2 separate regions of the Homo sapiens genome follow, and region 1 is linked to region 2. The links come from fine-mapping of genetic effects on gene expression. A gene starts in region 2. The other region holds a variant in brackets. All regions are shown on one strand. Distances are from middle to middle. Region 1 has its middle 21 kb from the start of CALB1. Region 2 holds the start of LINC00534 (long intergenic non-protein coding RNA 534).

Evidence for each region.
Region 1: its variant is fine-mapped to the expression of LINC00534 in whole blood (TOPMed, PIP 0.90).

Annotation. Positions count from the first base shown.
Region 1 is chr8:90,100,123-90,108,469 of GRCh38, forward strand. No RefSeq gene overlaps it. Among named protein-coding and RNA genes, the nearest start is that of CALB1, 21 kb to the left of the region's middle. The variant C/T (reference allele first, on the strand shown) is at 5,164.
Region 2 is chr8:90,218,171-90,226,517 of GRCh38, forward strand. LINC00534 (long intergenic non-protein coding RNA 534) reads left to right here and starts at 3,318. Exons shown (of 4, transcript NR_051989.1): 1 at 3,318-3,576.

The DNA.
Region 1 (8,347 bases), 120 kb before region 2:
AAATTGGAGGCAATCCTCTGACACCCTGTCACTGCTTTATCAACTAAGTTGATGTAATCTTCTAAATTCTTTGTTGTCATTTCAACAGTGTTCACAGCATCGCTACCAGGAGTAGACTGATCTCAAGAAACTACTTTCTTTGCTCACCCATAAGAAGCAACTCCACATCTATTATAGTTTAATCATGAGATTGTAGCAATTCAGTCACATTTTTTTTTTTTTTTTTTCTGAGACAAGATCTTACTCTGTCACCCAGACTGGAGTGCAGTTACATGAACACAGCTCACTGCAGCCTCAGCCTCCTGGGCTCAAACAATCCTTCTGCCTCAGCCTCCTGAGCAGCTGGCACCATAGGCATGTGCCATTATGCATGCCTCATTTTTTGATTTTTGTAGAGATAGGGTCTCACTATGTTGCTCAAGATGGTCTTGAACTCTTGCCCTCAAGCAGTCCTCTTGCCTAGGCCTCCCAAAGTGCTGGGATTACAGGTGTGAGCCACTGCATCTGGCCAGGCTCCATTTCTAATTCTAGTTCTCTCGTTATTGTCATTATGTCTGCAGTTACTTCCTGCACTAGTCTTGAATCAAAGTCATCCACAGAGGTTGGAATCAACTTCTTTCAAATCCCTGTTAATGTGGATATTTTGACCTTCTACCATGAATCACAAATGTTTTTAATGGCATTTAGAATGGTGAATTCTTTCCAGAAAGTTTCAGTTTACTTTGTCCAGATTCATCAGAGGAATTATTATCTTTGGTAGCTATAGCATCATGAAATGTATTTCTTAAATAATAAGACTTGAAATTAGAAATTACTCCTTCATCCATGGGCTACAGAATTGTTGTGTTAGCAGACATGAAAACAAAATTAATCTCCATGTACATCTCCGTTAGAGCTCTTGAGAGCCCAGATGCATTGCCAATGAGCAGGAATTTTGAAAGGAATCATTTTTTTTTTTCAGAGCAGTAGGTCTCAACAGTGGGCTTAAAATATCCAGTAAACCATGCTGTAAACAGATGTGCTGTCATCCGGCTTTGTTTTCCATTTATTGAGCATAGGCAGAGTAGACTTAGGGCAATTCTTAAGGGCTCTAGAATTTTTGAAATCATAAAAGATGTAGACTTCAATTTAGAGCCACCAGATGCATTAGCCCTAAACAAGAGATTCAGACTGTTCTTTAAAGATTTGAAGCCAGTCATTGACTTCTCTCTAGCTATGAAAGTCCTAGATGGAATTTTCTCCCAATACTAGGCCATTTTGTCTACATTAAAAAAATCTGTTGTTGGCTGGGTACGGTGGCTTACGCCTATAATCCCAGCACTTTGGGAGGCTGAGGTGGGCGGATTGCCTGAGGTCAGGAGTTCGTGACCAGTCTGGCCAACATGGTGAACCCCATCTCTACTAAAAATACAAAAAAGTTAGCCAGGTTTGGTGGTGTACACCTGTAATCCCAGCTACTTGGGAGGCTGAGGCAGGGGAATTGCTTGAACCAGGGAGGTGGAGGTTGCAGTGAGCCAAGATCGTGCCACTGCACTACAGCCTGGGCGACAGAGCAAGACTCTGTCTCAAAAAAAAAAAAAAATTCTGTGTTTAGTGTATGCTTAGTGTAGCCACCTTTATCAATTATCTTAGTCAGATCTTTTGGATAACATTCTACAGCTTCTATATCAGCACTTCCTTCTTCACCTTATACTTTTATGTTATGATGATAGCTTCTTTCCTTAAACCTTATGAACCAACCTCTGTTATCCTCAGTCATTTCTTCTGCAGCTTCCTCACCTCTATCAGAATTCGTAGAAATGAAGAGAGTGAAGGCTTTGCTCTGGATTAGGCCTTGGCTTGAGGAAATGTTGTGGCTAGTTTGATCTTTTTATCCTGACCACCAAAATTTTTCCCGTACCAGAAACAAGGCTATTTAGATTTCTCATCGTTTGTGTTTTTCGTGGGAGTACCACTTTCAGTTTTCTTCAAAGCCTTTTCCTTTGCATTCACTACTTGACTACCTGGCACAAGAGGCCTGGCTTTCATCCTATCTCAGCTTTTGAAGTGCCTTCCTCACTAGGCTTACCCATTTTTAGCTTATGTTTTAAAGTAAGAGATGTGCAACTTTTTCTTCCACTTGAACACTTAGAGGCCATTATAGGGGTATTTTAATTGGCCTGATCTCGGTATTCTTGTGTCTCAGTGAATATGAAAGTATGAGGAGAGGTAGAGAGTTGGAGAAATAGCTGGTTGGTAGAGCAGTCAGAAGTCACACATTTATTGATTAAGTTTGTCATCTCAATTGCTTCTCGGCCTTTTGGCTAAGATCAAGAGTGAAGTTTACCATTGCATGTGGTGTGGTTTATGGTGCCCCCAAACAATTATGATAGTAACAGTAAAGATCATGGATCACCATAACAGACATAGTAATAATAAAGTTTGAAACATAGCAAGAGTTATCAAAATGTGGCACAGAGACACAAAGCTAGCACATGCTGTTAGAAAAAATGGTGCCAATAGACTTGCTCGGAGCAAAGTTGTCACAAACGTTTAATTAGTAAGAAGTGCAGGATCTGAGGCATGCAATAAATACAATAAAACAAGATATGCCTATATATACTAAAATGATTACTACAGTGAAACAAATTACATCATTTTTCTCACATAATTACCTTGTTGTGTGTATATGTGTGGTAAGAACACCTGAAATTTACTCTTTTGGTAAATTTTATTACACAATACAGTATTTATTAATTACAGTAATCATAGTTTACATTAGATTTCTAGACTTATTTATCCAACATAACTGTAACTTTGGACCCTTTGACCAACATCTCCCTATCCCCTTCCACTTATAACCACCATTATACTCTACTCTATGTATTCAGCATTTTTAGTTTCCACATATAAGTGACATCATGCAGTAGTTTTCTTTCTGTGTCTGGCTTATGTCACTTAACATAATGTCTTTCAGTTTCACTCATGTTGTTGCAAAGGGCAGGATCTTCTTTTTTTTTAATTTGAATAATATTCCATTGTGTGTGTATACATTATATTATATTTTATTACATTCAGCAATTTATCCATTCACCCATCAATGGACATTTAGGTTGTTTCCATATCCTGGCTATTGTGAATAATATTCCAATAAACATGCAAGTGCAAATATCTCTACAGAATGACAATTTCATTTCTTTTGGTTACATATTTACACCCTTTCTAACACTTATCTCTTGCCTGTTTGATAATATTCATTCTAATAGGTGTGAGGTGGTATCTCAGTGTGGTTTTGATTTGCATTTTCTTCATGATTAGTGGTGATGGGAATCTTCTCATACACCTCTGGGCCATTTGTATTTCTTCTCTCTATTCAGATTCTTTGTCTATTTTTTAATTGGATTATTTATTTTTATTTTTTGTTGAGTTGTATGAGGTCCTTATATTATCCTGGATATTATTCTTTTACTGGTTATATGGTTTGTAAATATTTTCTTCAAATATGTAGGTTGCCTTTTCATTTTGTCGATTTTTTTCTTTGATGAGCAGAAGATTTTTAGTTTGACATAGCCCCACTTATTTATTTTTGCTTCTGTGGCCTGAGGGTTTTTTGTGATATCTAAAAAATCATCACTGGACCAATGTCTGGAAGCTTTATTCCTATGCTTTCTTCTGGAAATCTTACAGTTTTCGGTCTTATGTTTAAGTTTTAAATTCATTTTGAGTTAATTTTTTGTGTATGGTATAAAATAAAGGTTCAAATTCATTCTTTTGCATGTGGCTATCCACTGTAGCCAACATCATTCTTTGAAAGATTATCCTTTCCCCATCGTGTATGTGTGGTGCCCTTGTTGAAAATTAGCTAACCATATATGTTTTGTTTTGTTTTTTGTCTCTCTGTGCCTGATTTATTTCACTTAGCATAATGTCTTCCAGTTTCATCCACGTTGCTGCACATGATGGGATTTCATTCTTTTTTATGTCTGAAAAATAGTCACTTTTTCTTTATTCATTCATCCATTGAAGGACACTTAGGTTGTTTCCATACCTTGGCTACTGTGAATAATGCTGCAATGAACATGGGAGTGCAGATGTCTCTTTCAGATCCCAGTTTCAATTTCTTTGGATATATACCCAGAACAGGGATTGCTGGATCATGGGAGTAGTTCTATTTTTAGTTTTTTGAAAAAATTCCATACTGTTTTCCATAATGTCTGTGCCAATTCACATTCTCACCATCCAGTTTACAAAGGTGTGCCTTTGTTCACATCCTTACCAATACTTATCATTTGACTTTTTGATAATCGCCATTCTTTTTTTTTTTTTTTTTTGATAATTGCCATTCTAATAGGTAAGAGATGATATCTCATTGTGGTTTTGATTTGCATTTCCCTGATGATTAGTGATGTTGATGACTTTTTTATATACCCTTTGGCCTTCTTTAGAGAAATGTCCATTCAGATTTTTGCCCATTAAAAAAAATATTTATCCTTCAACTTTTAAGTTCTGGGGTAGATGTGCAGGATGTGCAGGTTTGTGTTACCTTGGTAAACGTGTGCCTTGGTGATTTGCTGATACATCAACCCATATGGTTGGGTTTTTTTAGCTCTCTTTTCTGTTTCATTGATCTAAGTGTCTGTTTCTATATTGTTTTGCTTACTTAAAGCTTTGTTATATAATTTGAAATGAGAAAGTGTAATGATTCTAACTTAGTTCTTTCTCAAGATTATTTTGACTAAAAAAGGTATTTTACAGTTCATATGAATTTTAGAATTTTTTTCTATTTTTGTGAAAAAATACCATTGGAATTTTGATAGAGATTATGTTTTATTTGTATATTGCTTTGGGTTATATGGACATTTTAACAAGATTCATTCTTCTAATCCATAAACCTGGGATATATTTCCATTTACTTGTGCCTTCCTTAATTTCTTTTATCAAGGTTTTATAGTTTTCAGTGTACAGATATTTCACTTCTTTGATTTAATTTATCTTGAAACATTTTATTTTTGATGTATTTTAAGTGGGATTGTTTTCTGGATTTCTTTTTTGATTAGATCATTATTAGTGTAAAGAAAAGCAACTAATTTTTGTATATTGATTTTGCATTTTGCCACTTTACTGAATTTGTTTATTAGTTTCTATAGATTTTTATTTTTTTTGTAGAGTCTTTAGCATTTTCTA[C/T]GTATAAGATCATTTGCAAATGGGTAATTTTACTTCTTCCTTTCTGATTTGGATTATCTTTCTACACTGATTGCTCTTGCAATCCATTACTATGTTGACTAGAAGTGGTAATAGTAGGCATCCTTGCCTTTTACCAGATCTTGGAGGAAAAGCTTTTAAGTTTTTCCTCACTGATTATGACATCTCTGGCCTTTTCATAAATAGCCTTTATTGTGTTGCAGAAGTTTCCTTCCATATATATTTTATTTAGAGTTTTTGTTACATATGGGTGTTCAACTTTGTCAAATGCTTTCTATACCTATAAAGATAATCAAGGGGTTTTTTATGTTTCATTATGTTAATGCAATGTATCACTTTGATTAATTTGTGTATGTTCAACCAAACTTGCACCTTAGGGATAAATCCCACTTGGTTGTGGAGTATAATCTTTTTGATGTGTTCTTAAATTCAGTTTGTTAGTATTTTATTGAGGATTTTTGCATCCATGTTCACCAGATATATTGGCCTGTGGTTTTCTTTTATAATGTTGTTGTCTGGTTTTGGTGTTAGGGTAATGCTGGTCTCATAGAACAAGTTAAGAAATATTATTTTTGCTTCAATCCTCTGAAAGAGATTGTAGAGAATTCATACAATTTTTTTCCTTAATATTCCACAGAATTCACCAGTGAACTAATCAGGGCTTGGTCTTTTTGCTCTGGAAGGTTATTAATTATTGGTTCAATTTCTTTAATAAATAAAAGTCTATTCAGATCGTCTTTTTCTTGAGTGAGTTTTGTCAAATTGTGTCTTTTAAGGAATTGGTTCATTGGCTCAATCTAGATTACAAATTTATGAGCATACAGTTGTTCGTAGAATTCCCTTATTATTGCCAGGCGCGTTGGCTCACGCCTGTAATCCCAGCACTTTGGGAAGCTGAGGTGGGCGGATCACGAGGTCAGGAGATTGAGACCATCCTGGCCAACATGGTGAAACCCTGTCTCCACTAAAAATACAAAAAATTAGCCAGGCATGGTGGCGGGCGCCTGTAGTCCCAGCTACTCGGGAGGCTGAGGCAGGAGACTGGCGTGAACTCGAGAGGTGGAGGTTACAGTGAGCCAAGATCACGCCACTGCACTCCAGCCTGGGTGACAGAGCGAGACTCAGAAAAAAAAAAAAGAAAAAGAATTCCCTTATTATCCTTTTAATGTCCAGAGGATCTGTTGTCATGTCCCCTCTTTTATTTCTGATATTAGTAATTTGTGTTCTCTCTTTTTGTTTCTTAGTTAACCTGGCAAGAGTCATATTGATCTTATTGATCTTTTCAAAGAACTAGCTTTTGGTTTTGTTGAGCTTCTTTATGGATTTCCTCTTTTCAGTTCATTGATTTCTGCTCTCATTCTTATTGTTTATTTTCTCCCACTTTAGATCTAATTTGCTCTTCTTTTCCTAATTTCATAGGGTGAAAACTTAGATTATTTATTTTCTATTTTTCTTGCTTTTTACTATATGCATTGAATGCTATAAACTTCCCTCTATGCACTACTTTCATTGCATCTTAAAAATTTTGTTGTGTTTTCATTTTTATTTAGTTCCAAATGTTTTTAGATTTTTCTTGAGATTTCATCTGTGACCTATGTGTTATTAAAAACTATGGTAGCTCAGGCATAGTAGCACACACCTGTAATCCCAGCAATTTGGTAGGCCAAGGCAGAAGGATTGCTTGAACTCAGGAGTTCAGGACCAGCCTAGGCAACATGGTAAAACCCTGTCTGTACAAAAAACACAAAAAAATTGGCTGGGCATGGTGGTGTGCACCAGTAGTTCCAACTACTTGGGAGGCTGAGGTGAGAGAATTGCCTGAGCCCAGAAGGTCAAGGCTGCAATGAGCCATGATTGCACCACTGCACTCCAGCCTGGGCCACTGAGTGAGATCCTGTCTCAAAAGTAAATAAATAATAAATAAATAAATAAAAGAGGAGTATGTTAATTTCCACACATTTTTTATTTTCCTGTTATCTTTCTGTTATTGATTTCTAATTTAATTTTACCGTGGTCTGAGAGCAGACATTTCATGATTTCTGTTCCTTTACATTTGTTAAGATATGTTTCCTGGTGCAGAATGTGCTTTATATTTGTGTATGTTTCATGTGAGCTTCAAAGGAATGTGTATTTTGCTATTGTTAAATGAAGTCGTCTATAAATGTTGATTACATCAGTTAATTGATGATGGTGTTGAGTTCTACTATGTCCTTAATAATTTTTTTGTCTGCTGGATCTGTCCACTTCAAATAGAGGAATGTTGAAGTTTCCAACTATAATAGTGGATTCATTTATTTTTCCTTTCCTTGCATTTTCATCATTTTTTGCCTCATGTGGTTTGATGCTGTGTTGTTAGGCACATACCTATTAAAGATTGTTATATTTTCTTGCAGAATGACCCCTTGATCATTGTGTACTGCTCTTTATCCATGATAATTGTCCTTGCTTTGAAGTTTGCTCTGTCTTAAATTAATACAGCCACTCCTGATTTCTTTTGATTAGTGTTACATGTATATTTTTCTTCATCCTCTTACTTTTAATCTATATGTGTCTTTATATTCAAAGTGGGTTTCTTCCAGACAACATAGAGTTGGGCCTTTTTTTTTTTTGTCCACTCTGACAACATCTGTCTCTTAAACCATTGATGTTAAAGTGATTATTGATATAGTTGGATTAATATCTACATATCTGTTATTGTTTTCTATTTGTTGCCCTTGTTATTTGTTCCTTCTTTGCCTTCCATTCTTTTTCTGCCTTCTATAGTTTTAATTGAGAATTTTATATGACTTCATTTTCTCTCCTTCCTTAGCATATTAGTTAATACTTCTTTTTAAACTTTGTTTTTAGTGGTTGCCCTAGAGTTTTCCATATACATTGACAACAAATCCACATCCAGTTTCAATATACATTGACAACTAATCCACATCCACTTTCAAATAACACCATAGTGCTTTATAGATAGTGTGAGTACTTTATAGTAACAAAATAATCCTAATTCCTCCATTTGATTCCCAGATTCATTGTAGTCATTCAGTTCACATATATTAGCATGCATAAGTATATATATAAAAAGTGTACATAATTAGACACATTGTTGCTATTGTTATTTTGAACAAACATTTGTTAGACTAAGAAAATAACATGTTTATTTTACATTACTTATTCC
Region 2 (8,347 bases):
ACCAGCTTAATCATTTTAAGTCAGGAGTGTAAAGTACATTCACACTGGTGTGCAATCAAAATCCAGAACTCATTTCATCCTGCAAAGCTGAAACTCTACCCCTCTTAAACAACAACCCCTCATTCCAACCTCCTCTCAGCCCCACTGGCAAGTGCCTTTCTACTTTCTGTCTCTACAAATTTAACTACTCTAAATACCTCTTATAAAGCGAATCATACAATATTTGTGTTTTCATGACTGGCTTATTTCACTTAGCACAGTCTCCTCAAGGTTTATACGTATGTAGCATGCATTATAATTTCATTTTTTTAAGGCTGAATAATATTTCATTGTATATGTAGATGTATAGACTACCTTTTGTTTATCCATTTTCTCATCAATTGGGCACTTGGGTTATTTTTACCTTTTGACTAATGTGATTAATGCTTCTATGAGCATATTTGTACAAACATCTCTATTAGACACTACTTTAAATTATTTTAGTTATACACCCAGAAACAGAATTGCTGGATCATATGGTAATTTTATTTTTAATTTTCTGAGAAACTGCCATACTGTTTTCCATAGTGGCTATATCATTTTACTTTCCCATCAACAGTGCACAAAAGTTCCAATTTCTCCACATCCTCACCAACACTGTTATTCAAATGTAATGGCAAAATAGAAGCATTTTTCGCACACAAAAAGAATAATACAATTTATTGTCCACATAACTGAAGTAAAAGAACTATTAAAGTTTGTGCTTTAGCAATAAGACAGTGAACTCAGGATGAAGGTGAGGGTCTAAGAATTTCTGAGTTGAACTACAGTTTTAGAACATGTATTGGTAAATTTACTTTAACATTAATCATAAAAATATAAATACCCCTTTTTAAAAGGGAAAAACTAGAACTATGAGCAATAACAAGATTTTGTGGGAAGTGTTCAATGGATAGTTAAAGCATTCTATGGAAATTCTCAGGATAACAAAAGAGATAATGAGTAGCAACAGTCCTGTTGGAAAAATTTACATTTGGTAAAATTTATAAATGTAGCATCTATCTGTAAGTCTGTTCTTTTTATAGTTGAATATATCCGTTCATATGGACATACCATATTTTGCTTCTCCATTAACAAGTTGATAGACATTTCAGTAGTCTCCAAATTTTGGCTATTATGAATGATGCTGTTACGAACATTCATGCACAAGTCTTTGTCTGGACACAGATTCTCATTTTTCTTGAGTATAGATCTAAGAGTGAAATTACTGGGTTATATAGTAAATAATAATTTTTGAGTAAACGTAGCATTTCACATTCCCACCAGCAATGCATGAGAGTTCCAGTTCTTACATTCTCGTCAGTCCTTGTTATTATTAGTCTTTGTTTAGAGTGGGTTCTAAGTATATCTCTTTGTTGTTTTAATGTTAAATACACCCTTTCGAACTAGTAAAATCTTTGAGAAACTGTGACTCCTCCCTAGCTCTCTGGACTCCCAAAGCTTTAATCCACTGTTTAGTGTTCTTTTAACAATTATGATGTGGCTATAATTTATTCATTGATCAATTCATTCATTGATTCATTAACTCAACAGTGATAACTGAACATCTGCAATAGGTCAAGCGATATTCCAGGAATAAAAAACTGAATTAAATTGATTCCTGCTCTCAAGGACTTGACTAACCTAATTGGAAACATGGACCTAGACAGTAAGAATTAAAATACAATGTGGTAGATGCAAATAAAGTACAAAATGTTATTCAAGTTCTGATCTAGTCAAATCTTAATATGTCAAGGGCTTTCAGTTGCCATTTTCCTTGTCATGAGAACATCTTTCTAACATGCTCAGGGTTGATTTCTAATGGTAAGAGAATGAGGTTGGAATGAGATAGGAGCTGACTTCCAGTCAACACTGTGGGCTCCACATATCACTTTTCTTTAGTCCATTATCAGTGCTATTATCTAGTTCAGAACTTGATATGCTCAAAACACCCTAGTTTCTGTTCTTGCATCTTAAAGTAGAAAGATCAGATGCTATTTCCATTAGTTGTCCATCTAAGGATACCATATAGCTATTCCCTTGATAGATTTAGTTTCACCACCTTACATTGAATTTTTCTTAAGAAGGAAGCAACTAAAATAAACAAGAAGTTCAATCCTGAGATTCTGAGGGCAATGGCATTTGCAAGCAATTTGTGGCAGGTAAGAGAGCAGTCCATAAAGTACTTCCTCCTAGGATGTTCTTGTGATTTCTGCTCTAATATATCTCCCACCCCCAAAATGCATGCAAGTGCCTACACACACACACACACACACACACACTGCCACCACCTTCTCCACTTCCCTAAACCCAATGAATGACTAACTTGCACAACATTCATCCACAGATTTTAAATATGAATACAAAGAAGGGATTCTAGTGATTGATACTTTTCCTGACCTTTAGATAACAGTTAACTAAACCATTTTAAGCTGATGTTGACATAGCCTATTAAATATCTCTACAGCAGAAATTCTATAATCTGCATTGTTCAGAAGTCCTGAAGTCTATGATTTAATGTAAAAATAGACCAGAAATCTGAAGAATTTATACAATTTATATTTATAACACAGTTGACTTAGTTGAATGTGTCAGAACACAATATGTGTACATATAAAATTTTTGGTGAAGTATGCCATAAAATTATAATTTGTTCATTAATTTTACCAGTTCACAAACATTTCTTAGGTATGGGTAATATGTCAGGCTATATGCTAGTTATTGTGGATACATGGATAAGAAAAAGACAATCCTCATCTTAAAGGAACAAACTCATTGGAGATAGACCTGTAAACAAAGAATTACCACACACAGTAATAAACATAGGGGAAAAAGAAAAATTAATCATCAGGATAGGAATGAAGGAGTTTTAGGGAAGACTTCCAAAGAAATAGGTTTTTGAACTGTGTCTTAAATATTTGCTACTCACAAAGTGTGGTTTTCAAACTGGGGGTATTCGCCTTTTCCAGAAGCCTGTTAGAACTTCAGAATCTCAGATCCCATTCAGGACATACCAAATCAGGATCTCTATTTTAATAAGATCTCTGGTCATTTGTATGACATTAAATTTTAAGAAGGTTTGCTTTAAAGGATGGTGAAGAATTCCCAAGTAGGTTTGAAGGAAAGGAAAAATATTCTCCAGAAGTGGGAACGATACTTGTAAAGGGACTATCTTGGACAAGATTCTCCTCAGAAGCACACTCTGAGGCAAAGAGTTGAGTACAGCAGTTTATTTGGGAGGAAACACTAGTAGGGGAGTGGGAAGTGAGATAAGGAAGGGAAGAATGACTGTAAAGAGTGTCTTTTCTGGCAGATTACTTCTGTGAGCAACTGGGTCTCTCAGTTCTTTGGGAGCACCCTGGGAAACAGTGTGGCTATGACTTGGAGCTGCTCACCAGTTCCAGTCATTCTGTGGTTGAGAGCTGCTCCCTATGGATGTTAATTCTTCTCTATTTTAGATTTTCCACAGGTGTGGGCCCCATTAGCTCTGGCCACCTGAGAAAGCCCTCAGGCAAAGAGTCGCAGGTGAAAGCCAGCAGTTAGAGGTTCACAGAAATGGTGAGTGCTGAACGGATATGGGTGGGTATCAATGATGGCTGCTATAGAGATCAAGGCATGAAACGGGACTACAAGGTATACTCAAGGAATTGCTGGTTGTCTAGCATTCTGGGAGTGTAGGGAATAAGTGTGGAAGTATCAGGATCTAAGGGTGTCTAGATACATAACAGCCAAATCATGAAGGGCCGTGTGAGGAAGACATGCTAAGGAAGTTGGAACTTATTTTGCGGGCCACTAAATATTTAAAAAATAGAGTGTCATAGTAGAAATTTCATCTTTGGAAAGATTATTTTGCAGTCTAGAGGGTGGGACTTCAGTGAGACTGAAGACAGAGAGGCCAGTTAAGAACTCTATCATCTTGGATACAGCTTTTGTAGTTACGGTATCACCATTAGCTGACTGGATTAATTAATATCTCTATTGAGCTTCTGCTGTGTTTGCAGCATTTTGCAGGTAGCTGTGTGAGGTATATCAGGTATTTTCTTTAATTAATGAAAATAATCTGTTTAAAGTCTATTCAATATATTGGTGCTATTGCTGTATGTTAGTAAGTGTTGGTGTGTTTAAATTTTACATGATGTGTATATATCACAGGTCTTGAGTACGCTAGCTGATACCTAGTATCATTCTCTAAAAAACGACCAATAGTATTTTTCTTTTTCCTGAGAGCACAGGATGAAATTTAAGCTAATAATTTTCTTTTATACCAAAAAATTACCTTTATACAAATTTTTTAATACCAAAAGTTCCCATTCATTGGGAACTATATGTAGGTCCCCAGTGAATGAATATATTAATTATTCACCTTGCCCATGGACACTAGTCACATTTTATTTGCGACCATTGCCACATCTCATAGAATAGGAATTTCTTGATTATTGCTATATTCACTCATATCAAAGTGTTGCCTTCCATTTCTCTTAGCTAAGATAGGCAGAAAACTTTTTACTAAGCCAGATAAATAATGGCTCATGTACTAATCCTTGTGAAATTAAACAAAAAAATCTGTGAAATTAAAAAAAATTATGAAATTAAAAAAAAATGGAAAGAAATTCCTGCCATGTCACTTACTATCCCTAATCTTAATTTCAGTGTTGTATAGATGTGTGCTTCTAAAATGTCGTGTTTTTCACACTTCGTTTCAATCCTTGAACTCTATTGAAAAGCTTCATTATATATTCTCCATTACTGATCTCGTTATAAAAATTTGATGTTGCTTAAAATAACCATTTGCTTTATTAAGCCAAGCTTTGTTTACTTCTGTATCTGTTGAGATTAACCTCCCATCACCATCCTTATACATGTACCCTTTGATTATTCTCAGTATTGATATCTTGGTCTTCCAAGAGCTGTAAGTTTTTAATTCACAAAAGGAAGGAGGTTCTAGGATTCAACTAATGTGATGACTAGATTTGTATATGGTATTAAAGTATTAAAGGAGAGAATTTCTTCGCCCATAGCTTATCATTTATTTGAATGCAGAGAAAATTTACTGGGGAGATTCAAAATGATAAATTTGTCTATGTGGAATTCAATAAGCAAAATGCTGAAATAGAGTCTAAATCTTCCATCATCACTAAAGCTGTTTGATAAGAAATTTATCTCCTCTTGTCTGCTTTAGCTTGATCTAAGTTAAGTACTAATGAATCATGACCCAGTCTGTGTTCCTTTGTCCTCACATTTTACTTGCTGTGGCAAGGATTCAAAAGTGATTGATTAATGTCAAATAGGTTTTCGCTCTCTATTGGAAATCTTGCTGCAGTAACACATGCTTTTTTTGTTTTAAATTTATATAAGGCAACTTTCTCTATGGTGGGTACCGTAGAAGACTAGAAGTTTCTATTATAACACATTCATCATTTTGAAAAATGAAGGTGGCTGGCTGCAGTGGCTCACGCCTGTAATCCCAGCACTTTGGGAGGCCGAGGCGGGTGGATCACCTGAGGTCAGGAGTTCGAGACCAGCCTGGACAACATGGTGAAACCCTGTCTCTACTAAAAATACAAAATTAGCTGGGTGTGGTGGCGGGTGCCTGTAATCCCAGCTACTTGGGAGGCTGAGGCAGGAGAATAGCTTGCACCCAGGAGGCGAAGGTTGCAGTGAGTCGAGATCATGCCACGGCACTCTAGCCTGGACAACAGAACGAGACTCCGTCTCAAAAAAAAAAAAAAAAAGTGTGAAGCTATCTGAAGATTGACTCAATTGACCTGATGCAATGAGGAAGTCCACTAGAGGATTTAAGCAATAGGCCAAGTTTTCAATCAAATCTTAAAATAATTAAGTGACCTTAAAATTCTTGACTAAATTTCTGAGTGATCACTTGTGTATTCTCATCAAATGAGGTAGTTAAGAGACCTGAGGAAGAGAATACTTTTGGATCTGAGTTTCTGTCTGTTAAGTAAAAATGGATTTGTTGTATAATCTGAGTAAGCTGTTTACCATCTCAAGAGTCTCCATTAAGAAAAAAAATGTTAGATAGTGGACAACAATGCTCTCTTTATGAGGATTACATGGTGTAAAGTGACTGTCATGTGTCAAAGCTTCATAAATTGGGGAAATAGATAAATAACTGTGGATAGTTTTGCCTTTTTGTAAACAGATACTGATAAAAAGACCTAGAATAAAGGCTCTCTCTTTTAATAATTTCTGAATTTCTTGTAACTTTCCACTGCCTTTCACTCAAACTCCCCATTACTCCAGTTATGCAGCATTTATGCTGGGGGCTTTATGGGCTGCCATTGCTGCTGTGCATGCTTTTCCATTTAATTTTAAAGTTCCATTGTTCTAGGGCATTAGGATTGTTATCAGATTTCTTAAGGTCAAGGTCAGTGAGTCAAATATACTGGAGCATAAAACATTTTTTTCATCCTTTTAAAAGTCACATTTATTTTGAAAAGACCAGGAAACCCACCCATCTTTACCTCTCCTTAATGTTGATCCAATCTGAGCTTTAAATTTTTTACTTTTTGCAGCATGATTTGTAACATAGATGGCTAGCCTTAAATTTGGCCAAAAAAAAAAAAAAAAAGGGTTTCTTTTTTGCTTTTGCTGAAGCGAGCCCTTCTGGTCATCTATAGGTCAGCTCTTGTTGGTGAACTGATGACAGTGGAGGCACCTGCACTTTGGAAATAAACATTATATCAAAAGAAGTCAAGCAGCAAAGGTTAAACCAGAACATGGACCCTGTTGCTCACATGAGCCCCAGGCAGGCATTCTATAGAATCTGAGAAGCTAGTCTCTAGGGAGAGGCAGAACTTTGTGTTCTCGCCCAATCACTCTCCACTGCTGCTCAGGACAATGCAGACATGCCCTAGTGAAAGTCAGCTCTACCCACGCAAAGCGAGATAGGAGAACATTTTAGGGTGAAACTAGAAAATGATACATGAAGATAATTGCAAAAAATAAAGTGATTTTAAAGTTTTCTTTGGGGCATGGTCATCTGCATGGGGATATCTAGAACTGTGGCAGCCATCTGGAGACCTTGAAGCAAGTCAGTCTAAAAGCAGACACTTTGCTATGTCTTAAATCTCACTATTGGCAAAATGGAAAGAAGAAAAGCATCTATGTTTATTACTTCCACTGGTTTACTGAATTAACCAACATAACAAGAAAGGAGAGAGTTTCAGGAATTTTTGTATGTTAAAGAAGTGATTTTTAGATGTTAGCAACTATAAACTAAAGATGGTCCTTTGAGTTAGAGATAAAATAGAGCTTTTTGGTGACCTCCTTTGTAGTTGAATAACCACTACCTACACAGGATCTTCACTGAGGCAATTGGTTTTAAATATCACCTTTGAAGCCAACATTTCTCCTGTTAATTTACAATCTTTAGAGTGATAGGTAATTAAAAGGCTATAACAGGGAATGTGCTCACAGAATAAATATGAAACACCTTTGATACTGTGGTGCTAAAGGATAGATGAGAAAGTCTTCAGTCAGCTTCAGGTTTTCTCCCATTCGAATCATGAGGTTAGCATTTAATTAGTAAAGGGGTGGGACAATGTAACAGACTAGGTATCTAAAGACTCATTCTTTCCTTCACTTAGGAGAATTACTACCAGCCAATTATCCTTTTACAAAATGCTATTTATCTCATCTTCATGTATACATCTTAGAAATAAGGGAGGATGCTATGATTCATGCCTGTGATTTTGGTCTCTTGGTTTTAAAATTGCCCGTAAGTGTAGATGCTGTTATGATGTCACACTCACAAGAAACCTGAGTTTACCATCAAGACCCATTGTGAAAGCTTGACATTGTTATTCCAGCATTATCCAAAGTTATTATTTTTGTGAGGCAGGATGAAGCTGAATTGAACTAAAGAACTAGACATACTGTACAAAACCTGATGACTTTTTCTTGAAAGCTGACCCAGACTGCTACAAGCTCTTTAACTTTTGTAATTTAAAATTAATTTGAATGAAAAAATATTAGGAGCACTTGTTTCTGGCTATTTTGAACAAAGTCATTTCTTTTTGGAACATTAATGGCTCCAAGGTAGAAGGAGAAAAATGAGAACTTGCTTATGAGCTTATGGAAGAAACATTACGTTTTCAAAATGAGAACCCAAGGTAATTACTTCACTTGAGGAAAAAAGGGAGTATGGCACTTTGGCACATTCCACAAACCAATTAAATATTAGCAAAACAAGTAGCCTTAGAAATGACATTTCTTTATGTGGAATATATAAGCTCAGATTTTAGAGATAAATCTTATCTCAACACTTCTGTCTCTGCCTCCCTACTCCACTCCTATAAGTTTCTCACCTATA